2 separate regions of the Homo sapiens genome follow, and region 1 is linked to region 2. The links come from fine-mapping of genetic effects on gene expression. A gene starts in region 2. The other region holds a variant in brackets. All regions are shown on one strand. Distances are from middle to middle.

The links. PIP is the estimated chance that this variant, and not a neighbour inherited with it, causes the effect.
Region 1: its variant is fine-mapped to the expression of TMEM229B in whole blood (TOPMed, PIP above 0.99). The same link has a PIP of 0.9 or more in monocytes.

Annotation. Positions count from the first base shown.
Region 1 is chr14:67,506,835-67,512,206 of GRCh38, reverse strand. It overlaps a transcript of GPHN not described here and a transcript of TMEM229B not described here. Among named protein-coding and RNA genes, the nearest start is that of TMEM229B, 21 kb to the right of the region's middle. The variant T/G (reference allele first, on the strand shown) is at 3,102.
Region 2 is chr14:67,486,387-67,491,758 of GRCh38, reverse strand. TMEM229B (transmembrane protein 229B) reads left to right here and starts at 3,038. Exons shown (of 3, transcript NM_001348543.2): 1 at 3,038-3,251; 2 at 4,587-4,759. It also overlaps a transcript of GPHN not described here. RefSeq lists enhancers at 1-357, 2,907-3,326, 2,964-3,463, 3,627-3,696.

The sequences.
Region 1 (5,372 bases), 20 kb before region 2:
TGAGAGTTGTCACACTGGCTGTGGTGTGTGAGAATGCATGTGTTGGGGAAATTTTCCTTTCCTGGGATTTAAGAGCATTTAAAATCAAGTACCCGAGTAGATCCATAGGTTATACTTTTCTGCTATAAGATAAAGATGCACTCAGAATTTACGTACCAGAATTTACATCAGTACCAGGGTGTTTGGTTCAAGACGTATATTTGCCTCAGACTTTGAGCTGTGGGATGCCCCATGCTGCTGTGATTCAAGGAAAAGGCAGTGGTTTTCACCCCGACACACACATCCACAGATAGAACTGAGGCTAAGTCAACCATCACATTTCCAAGATGGAAAAGAGGGTTTGCTCCTTTCCCTGTTTTCCCATTCATCAGGCTGCATTTATACCCAGTGTGGCCTTCGGCTCTCCTCCCCTGTGAGGCTATACTTCATGCTCATTTTAACATCAGTTCCCCTATGTATAAATGTAGTGGAGCGGAGGTCACAGAGTGATGCTGGCCCCCTGCTCCTTCAAAGGATGGTTCTGAAAGGCGACTTTCCACCCTCCTCTGATTTTGGTGCTTCCACTTACCTTTGGATCACAATCCAGTCTGGCAATTTGAGGAACAACCAAAGTCATTGACAATTCATGTTTTTGAACATCCAGCTTTTCACCATCCTTTACTCTGCTGGCTTCCCAGTAGGGAGTTTAATATTTTTTTCGGGATTCTCGGCTCCCAGTGTGGCTGGTATTATAGAAGAGACAGCATCTTTGAAATGAGGGCAAACCATCTACACGGACAGGTCTCGGGTCCTCAGATTGCTCCTTCCGGCTGCTCCATCTTCTAGAAGCATGACAGTTTTTTTTGTTTTTTTGTTTTTTTAAATAAGACTTCAGCTGTCAATTAATGTAGGGAGAGCTAATAAATATGAAAAGATGAGGGGAGAGATCACTTTCTGCCATTCCTTTGCTTTCCAAAAGCCCCTCATTCAGAACATACTGGATTATCCACTTCTGACTGCTTTTGCAGTTAGACTTGAATGACGAATGCCATCTAGCTGGCCCATTCATTCATTGTTTCCTTTCAGTTATTAAGAGGCACCCCTGTCACATGAGCTTCTGGAATGATCCGTTTCCATTGGAAAGGTCACTCACCCTGAGTTTTAGTAAGGCCTTGACATCAGCCCTGAGGAGCTAGGGATGCCAGCCAAGGAGATTGAAGGGCCACAAAGAGAGGATTCTTTTCTAGACTTCTGAGGGGTGATTCATGCTTCAAGATAAAATGTGCTTCCTGGGGCTCCATGGTTTCATTGCTTGCACAGTCAGTGGAGGGACAGGCCCTGGTGCAGCGAGAAGCCCACCTTGCTGACAATAACTGCCATTCTTCAGAGCACCGACAGGGACTTGTTTTTAGCCCACTGACAACCCCCATCTCCTTTTTCATTGCTGTCCTTGGCCAAACCCCATTTTAGTCCCTAAGTCCTTAGTATCTCTCTTCCCCTTGTTCCCAATCAAAAAGGCCTGTTCAAAGCCAGGAATAAGGCAGCCAGAGCATTGGTCTTACTTTCATCTACTTTCTTAAAACACACATGGACAAGAAATATCATTACCACTGGGCAACACAAGCAGCGGTTCCAGATTTTTGTCTTGTTTTCTTTTTCTTTTTCTTTTAGTTTGGCATAAGCAATGAGATGACCTTCTTATACTGACCTATAGATGCTATAAAGCTTTCATATAGCCTGCACAGTTTCTAACACATGGTGAGTGCTTATTAAATCACCAGCTGTGGTACTTGGATGTGATCAGATACCCCGATTTCTAGGTCATTGGGCAATGATTCGTCTGTGTGTGAGCTGATGGTTGGCAAAGGCTTCAGGAATCAGGAAATCTGGGATCCCTCCCTGACTCACTCACTTGTGTGACCTTGGACAGCCCATTTCAGCCCTCTGAGACTTAATTCCACAAATAGAGCTTCAGCTGGCTTCAGTGATCATGGCAATAATAATGACAATCACCATTTATTAGGCTAAGCATTTACATATGTTCTTTTCTCATATCAATGAGATAGCTACTATTAATTATCCCCATCTCACAGCTGGAAACACTGAGGCTCTGCAAGATAAAGTGATCACCCATATCATACAGCTAGTAAGTGTCTAAACTGGGATTTGAATTGAGATCTATCTGATTCTTTTTTTTTTTAATAAAAAAATTTTTTTAGAGACGGGTTCTCTCTCTGTTGCTCAGGCTTTAGTGCAGTGGCACAATCATAGCTCACTGCAGCCTTGAACTCCTGGGTTCAAGTGATCCTCCTGCCTCAGCCTCCCTAGGACTACAGGCATGTGCCACCATACCTAGCTACTTTTAAAATTGTTTATATGGAGACAGAGTCTTTATAACTCGCTATGTTGCACAGGCTGGTCTCAAACTCCTGGCCTCAAGCAATCCTCCTGCCTCAGCCTCCCAAAGTGCTGGGATTACAGGGATAAGCCACATCTCCCAGCCAGTCTGAATCTATTGTGTTTTATAAGCTTGGATCAGATAATAGACCAAATGTTGGGGAGAGGGTAAAAGTGGAGGCAGTATAGGTTAACACATAAAAAGGAGAATTGACCAGGTGCGGTGGCTCATGCCTGTAATCCCAGCACTTTAGGAGGCCGAGGTGGGTGGATCACCTGAGGTCAGGAGTTCAAGACCAGCCTGAGCAACATGGTGAAACCCCATCTCTACTAAAAACACAAAAATTAGCTGTGCATGGCGGCTCGTGCCTGTAGTCCCAGCTACTTGGGAGGCTGAGGCAGGAGAATCGCTTGAACCTGGGAGGTGGAGGTTGCAGTGAGCAGAGATCATGCCATTGCACTCCAGCTTGGACAACAAGAGTGAAACTCCGTCTCAAAAAAAAAAAGAGAGAGTTGATGTGGATTAAACACAACTAGTTAAAAGGAGACAGAAGTACAGATTCTTGTTTGAAAAACATCATCTCAATGAATGTTCAGTAAGGAGAGGTCTGTACCCTGCAGTAGGGAAGTAGACCAGATGGCCTGGGAGTTACTGTAAAGGGAACACGCTTTCTGCTTGGCATAGGAATACATCTCATAAACCCCATTTCATTTTGAAACCAAAA[T/G]TTTCCTCTTGCTTAACGGTCTGTTTGGGCAACATTTTTATTTCTGTTGTCCTACTGCCACTAGTCATAGAAGCTTATCTTTGCAGATTCTTGACCCCAATCCTCATCCTCCAACCTAGTTTCTGGGCCTTTCCCTGCCCATCATTATAATTCAGCTGTGGAGACCTGATTATGACTCTGGGGTCCCAGCTACACTGAGCAAAGTACAGCAAACATGAGATTATTCTGTTCTTCTGAGAAAATATTTATAGCCACTGATTTCTCCATTCAAAGGTGACCAGCTAGTAGATTGGGATCCATTCTTGTTTGTTCCAAGCAAGTTAATTGTCTTCTGTTTTTTTTTTTTTTTTTTGAGACAAGGTTTTGCTCTGTCACCCAGGCTGGAGTGCAGTGGCACAATCCCAGCTCAATGAAGCCTCTATCCCTCTATCTCCTGGGCTCAAGGGATCCTCTAGCCTCAGCCTTCCAAGTAGCTGGGACTACAGGTGCAGAACTACACCTGGCCTCTTCCACCATTTTGAAGTATTCATGGAAGAGGAATGAGGGTTAAGGTGGTGGTCCAAGGAAGGTGAGCTGACCCCTCTTGGAGAGCTAGCGTGAGGCTGTATGATGGAACAGTGTGCAAGGGGTCAGGAGACTTGGGTTCTCCTCACAGCTCAGTGACTCTGGGCGTGTGATGCAAGTTTTTTGGCTTTTAGTTTTCTTATCATTTGGACAAGATATTCTCTAACCTCTCTTCAGGTAATAATGCTAGATGATCCAGCCTTTCCTGAGAAAGGCTGAGGTTCCAGCCTTTTTCAGGAAATAACTCAGCTGGTCTGGAACTGTCAGAAGTCAGAGTTGGGAGGGAAGAGATGGTGTTGAAGGAGAAAGAAGTCAAACTGGAAGCTAAGGAACAAAGTCAGAGCTGGAGGAAGTCCCTTCTCAAGAAGGGGGACTAGGACCAGTCATTGCTCTTTTTTTTTTTTTTGAGATGGAGTTTAGCTCTTGCTGCCCAGGCTGGAGTGCAATGTGACTTCGGCTCACAGCAAACTCCACCTCCCGGGTTCAAGCAATTCTCCTGCCTCAGCCTCCCGAGTAGCTGGGATTAGAGGCATGCGCCCCCACGTCCGGCTAATTTTGTATTTTTAGTAGAGACAGGGTTTCTCCATGTTGGTCAGGCTGGTCTGGAACTCCCAACCTCAGGTGAACTGCCGGCCTCAGCCTCCCAAAGTGCTGGGACTACAGGCGTGAGCCAACATGCCCAGCCCAGTCATTGCTCTTTTAACCGCTTCAGTGGGGCAGCTGAGAGGTGGTGTCTGTACACCCTTATACTCACCATTCCTATGTCATGGGGAGCAACCTTTATGTCTTGTCTTAAAACTTAAACTGAGCCAGGCAGGGTGGCTCACACCTGTAATCCTAGCACTTTGGGAGATGGAAACAGGAGAATCACTTGCCAGTTCAAGACTAGCCTAGGCAACACAGTGAGACCTTGTCTTTACACAAAATTAGTTGGACATGGTGGCGCATGTCTGTACTCCCAGTTCCTTGGGAGGCTGAGGTGGGAGGATCACTTAAGCCTGGGAGGTCGAGGCTGCAATGAGCTGTGACCACACCACTGCACTCCAGCTTGGACAAAAGACCGAGACCCTGGGGACTCCAGGGTCTGCTTCAGTCCAGGATTCTTCCCCCTATCCCTGCTCCTCTGCCACTTGGGTCTCCAGAACTTGAGGTCTCTGGTTGATGTTTTTTTGTTTTTGTTTTTGTTTATTTTAGAGACAGGATGTTGTTCTGTCACCCAGGCTGGAGTGCAGTGGCATAATCATAGCTCACTGTAGCCTTGAACTCCTGGGTTCAAGCAATCCTCCCACTTCAGCCTCCCAAGTAGCTAGGACTGTAGTTGCACCACCTATATTAGCACCTGGCTAATTTAGCTGGTGCTTTCTGGGCAACTCAGTGTTAGCGAGAGTATAACCCCCTCTGTTGCCCTAACTACCTGAAAGGGCAAGGCTAAACCATATACTCAGCCCAGGAACTCAGGGACCACGTCTTCTTTGTTCATGGAATTGGGCTATGGCTAGGCTATCTTCAGTTCCCTTTGAACAAGGCTTTTTCTTTTTCTTTCTTTCCTTTTTTGTTTTTAGATGGAATCTGGCCCTGTCGCCAGGCTGGAATGCAGTGGCACGATCTCAGCTCACTGCAACCTTTGCCTCCTGTGTTCAAGCCATTCTCCTGCCTCAGCCTCCTGAGTAGCTGGGACTACAGGTGCATGCCACCACCCCCAGCTAA
Region 2 (5,372 bases):
GCTCAGGGCTTTTCTTACTCTAGGATAAGTAAAAGTGGTTGTTCTGAGTCACGTGAGAAGAACTGGGGGCTTTGAGTAACCAGAGGGCTCCCCAGTGGGCCTTTAGGCATCTTCTCTACTTTGTGGGCACCTGGGTCAGGGTGCGGTGTAATAAGAAATGTATTCGGTCTTTGTCCCGGGTCCCTGTCATAGAGCTCCTAAAACCCTTGAAATTTCCTGAGTGAAAGGAATGTCTTTTGTTATTCATAATAAGCACCTTTGATAACACCTGAGTTTATGCTAATGAAGTTACTGGGGAAGTGGTGGGGTGGTGGAGGGGCTAGACAGCCTCAGGATGGAGCCAGTCTCCAGAAAGACCAAATGCTTAGAGGATTAGAACATTTGGCCTCACCCTCCAACCTCCAAGAAAGGTGTGGGAGGGTGGAGATCAAGCTACATAAAAACTCTTGAATAAGATTTGATAGGTTTCTGGGTGGCTGAACATGTGGCGGTGCTGGTGGGTGACCCCCCAATACGTCACCCTATCCATCTCTGCATCTGGTTGCTCATCTGCACCCTTTGTGATAAATCAGTAAAGGTAAGTGTTTCCCCGGGTTCTGTGAGCCATCCTAGCAAATTAATAGAACCCAAGGAGGCGGTCATGGGAACCCTGGTTTGTAACCAATTGTTCAGAAGTATAGGTGACGATCTACTTGTGACTGGCATCTGAAGTGGGGGCAGTCTTGTGGGACTGAGCCCTCAGAATGTGGGATCTGCTGCTATCTCAGGATAGATAGCATCAGAGTTTAAATGAACTGTAGGAGACCCAGTTGGTGTCTGCTGGAGAAATGTGACCAGATATGGGGGGCATATCTGCCCCCCTCCACGCCCACCCCATATCTGGTCACAGAAGTGTTCTGCTTTGAGTGTGAGAGCAGAAGGAAAAAACTTTTTTTCCTTTACAGGGAGATTTGGGGAGTGTTAAGGAAAAGGAGAGTGGGGGTAAAAAAACAGAGGTAGTATTTGCCTGCATGCTTTCTGGCTCCAGTGTTAGGTTCCAGGCCAAGGAGATGATGAGGGGCCGGGGAGAGAGATCTGATTTTTAGGTTCTGGTCAGAGAAGCAGAGACTCAATCCTGCAAGCCCAGCTTACCTTAAATAGTTATAGGAAAGGAGAGAAAATGGTGCGAAGGGAATTTCCTGCCAGTAGCCTCTTTGGGAAGTGAATCCTATGTGCATGAAAACTGATGTGGCTTTTGAGAGTGCCAGCACATTGTAGAAATAACAGAACAGGAGTTGTTATTCTCTGACCTGAACCTGCGCTTGGCCCCTTGCCCACATAGGAGGCTGCAGTATCTCCCCTGATGCCTGGAACAGTCTGTTCCTGCCCCAGTCTTCCTTGCGTGATGTTGGACATGCCTTCTGTATTGTGCAAACCCAGGCCGCCCACTCTGCCTCTCTTCATTCTCTGGTGGTGCAATGGCTCCTGGAGATGGGAGAAAGGAGAGTGAGCACACTCCTTGCTTCCTTCACCTGCAGAGACAGCCTTGCCTTTAGTAAACCAACATGTATGGCTCATCTGTGATGGTGGCCTATAAATTAGAGAAAAACACAAGACATTGCTATGTTTGATTAGTAACATTGGATGTTTCAGTCGCCCAAGAATTTAAATGCAGCTGGGCCCTTCTCCACCTTGCCTGTCCATCCATCCAGCAGAAATTTTATGATCTCAAGAAATTCATAGCGTGGTGGGGGAAACAGACACATAGACAGAATTTTTTTTTTTTTTTTGAGACGGAGTCTCGCTCTGTCGCCCAGGCTGGAGTGCAGTGGCGTGGTCTCAGATCACTGCAAGCTCTGCCTCCCAGGTTCACGCCATTCTCCTGCCTCAGCCTCCCAAGTAGCTGGGACTACAGGTGCCCACCATCACACCTGGCTAATTTTTTGTGCTTTTAGTAGAGATGGGGTTTCACCATGTTAGCCAGGATGGTCTCGATCTCCTGACCTCGTGATCCGCCCGCCTCGGCCTCCCAATGTGCTGGGATTACAGGCGTGAGCCACCGCGCCCGGCTACATAGAAAGAATTTTAAGATGGGATGACATGTTTCAGTTGAAGGATGGTCAGATCCCCCTGGGAACATCAGTGATGGAATGACCTGGAGGTTGTGGGACGGCATCGCAAAGGAGTGAGGAGGGAGCAGGGTCTGGAAGAAGGAGTCAGAATGGTGGCTGCAGAGGAGGGCAGGAGAGATGACAGTGCTTGAAACAGGCCGGTGGTCTCTGCTTCTTCACGCTCCCAGCAGCGTCTCAGGCATATTGACCAGAAGCTGCATGGACAAACTCAGCTATAAGTTTGCAAAATAAGCAGCTTACTTGGAATGGACTAAGTAGTTTACACTGACTTGAAGACCCTTGCATGCAGACATGTGCCTTAAGGATGAGATTTGGGTGGGAAGCAGTTCGAAGGCACATTGTATGGGGACAGGGTGATTCTGGAGGCTGAGGACTGGGATTTGAATCAAATGTTTGGATTTGGCCAAATCTCTTAATGTCCTGAACCCTCTGTGTTTTCATTTCTAAAATAGAGGTGACCATTTCTGCCCTTCCTGCCCCTCAGGAGCCTGAGAAAATCATGAGAGATGATCTAAGTTCCATCCATATGTTAGTTGCTATAAGGGCTCATCATTCATTCATATGTTCCAAGAAACTCTGGTTCAGGTCCTGCAGTCCTCAAAGGAGCCTCATGTCCCCTGTCCCCTGGGATCTACTCTTGGGGGATAGGGAGTGTCAGTGAGGCCTAGGGACAGCTTATGCACTTGGAGGGAGAGGTGCACCATCATCTCATCCTCCCTGCAACTAAGTTTTTCCTGGGGAAAAAGCCTGCAGACCAGGAAGTGGGAGGTGTCTGGTGGGACACTGCCCTCAAAAGGAGCCTTTCTGAGTGCTGGGGCTTCATCTGCCAGGGCTGCACCTCAGCAGGCAGTGGGCTCCCAGAGCTGGCTGCAGTAACCCGCAGGCTGTGCCGGCAGGATGTGGTCTTTGGTTTCTGTTTCTGTTTTAGTTCTGACTTGTGCCGTGGATGTGGCTGAGGGCCTAGGGTGGGGAGAAGTCTCCACAGGTGGGATTGAACTCCCCAGGCACATGGTCCTTGTGGTGCTGGTGGAGAGAGAGTCCCAGAGGGTTCGGACATGCTCCGTTAAAACCTTTTCCTCAAGGTGATAGGTACGTGTCAAGGTGACCCCTGTCCGCCATCCGGCAGGCTGGAAGAAGCCGGTAAGATGGACAGATCAGGGAGGGTTGGAGGGTCCCGTTTGTGAAGGAGCTGGGGAGGGGGAGGCAAGGCTGAGCACAGCAGCCCACTGTGATGCTCTCAGTGCAGAGGCCCCGGGGGGAGACCCAGGGGGGCACCCCCCAAAACCACACCATACAGTGAGTTTCAGTTCCCCCACTCCTGCCCTTTCACTTCTCCTCGGCTGCCTGGCTGCCTCACAGGTTGTCAGCTTGAGCAAGGGCCCAAGCGGCCTCTACTCAGAGACCCTGGTGGTCAGAGGGGAGTGGGGAAGGTGGACATGGGCATCAGCACAGACCAGCACCTCTGGTCCATCCTGCCTGGTCATCCACAGGGGAGTGCCAGCTCCCACCCCCAGCCACATACTGTTCTCAGCTTCTGAGTGGCTGGGCTGTCCCAGAGGGCCATGCTGGGCCTGAGTGCTGTCCTTGGGCATATGCAGATGGTGTTGTATCCAGGGGGTTTTCAGGGAAGCTTTAGCACTTTCATATTAAAACAAAAAATGTTGGAATCTCCATTAAATAGTCAAGTCTTAGGGATAGTAGTAAAAACATGGCTGTACATGGCTGGCCAGGCACAGTGGCTCACGCCTATAATCCTAGCACTTTGGGAGGCTGAGGTGGGAGGGTTGGCCAAGAGCTTGAGACCAGCCTGGTCAACATAGCAAGACCCGTCTCTACTTGATTTTTTTTTTTAAAGTACATGGCAAAGGGCATTATAAAGTAAGATTTGTATTAGCTTGTAGCTGGTTACTGATGTTCATAGGAAGGGCCTCAACCATAATAATGGTGAAATAATAAAATGAGATGAATAAATATTAGAGAGGTAGAATAGTACGTAGAAAGGTTTAGCACACATTTTGTTTTTCTGCACGAGTGGTTGTTCTCTGCTTTCAAAGTGCTGAAACGAATGTCCTACATTGTCTGCCTTCCATGAGGTTCTGACCGCCCTTGAGAACAGATGTACCCACTACAGGGTGAAGGTGAGAATGTAATTTGAAGCTGAATGAGAATGGAGCTGGATTCTAAAATTATATCCCCTCTCAGATTCACAAGTGTTCACACATTTAGGCAAGAAGCCCTAAGTCCTAACCCTGGACATGTGGATTGTCCAGGACCATCCCAGACTTTTGTGGCTGGATTAATCAGACCTGAGCAAACTGGATGCAAAGAGGAGGGGGTAGGTTCCGGGAAGGGGCCCTGGTGGCCAGGGTGGGATGAGTGTCTGGTGCTGAGCCCAGAGCCCAGGCCCTTGCAATGTTTTTCTTGGATCTGCTGGGGGCAGTTTAAGCTAATAAAAGCCTCCTCTTTTATTCCCAGGGACACATGGAAGCTGCCAGCCCCCCAGCCAAGGATCAGCTGAGCCCTAGGGCTGATGCTTGCCTACGTTGCTGAGAATGGCACTGAGGCCCAGCCAACAAAGGTTAACCCAGGACACTCCTGGACAGTGATCCTGATGTCTGTTGTGAGCTGCACACTCAAGGGTGTGATAAGTGAGTATGTTACAAGCACCCAGGGGATCACCAGCCCAGCGATCCTGCCTGCTCGGCACCTCATCAGCATGGGCACGAGTCTGGAGGTTCTAGTTCTGAGTCTGTTCCCCATCCAAGGTCCTGTCACAGGGCAATGGGAGGGGAATGTCAAGCAATATTGGGCCATCACATGCGGGAGCCGTCTTATGGCCACATGGCCTCTAAAATCCAGGCCAGACCCAGTGTATTAGTTTGTTTTCGTGCTGCTGATAAAGACATACGTAAGAGTGGAAAATGTATACAGAAAAAGAGGGTTAATTCCACGTGTCTGGGGAAGCCTCACAATCATGGTGGAAGGCAAGGGGAAGCAAGTCACATATTACAAGGTTGGTAGCAAGCAGAAAGAGAGCTTGTGCAGGGAAACTCTCCCTTATAAAACCATCAGATCAGCCGGGCACTGTGGCTCACGCCTGTAATCCCAGCACTTTGGGAGGCCGAGGTGGGTGGATCGCAAGGTCAACAGATTGAGACCATCCTGGCCAACATGGTGAAACCCCATCTGTACTAAAAATACAAAAATTAGCTGGGCATTGTGGCATGCACCTGTGGTCCCAGCTATTCAGGAGGCTGAGGC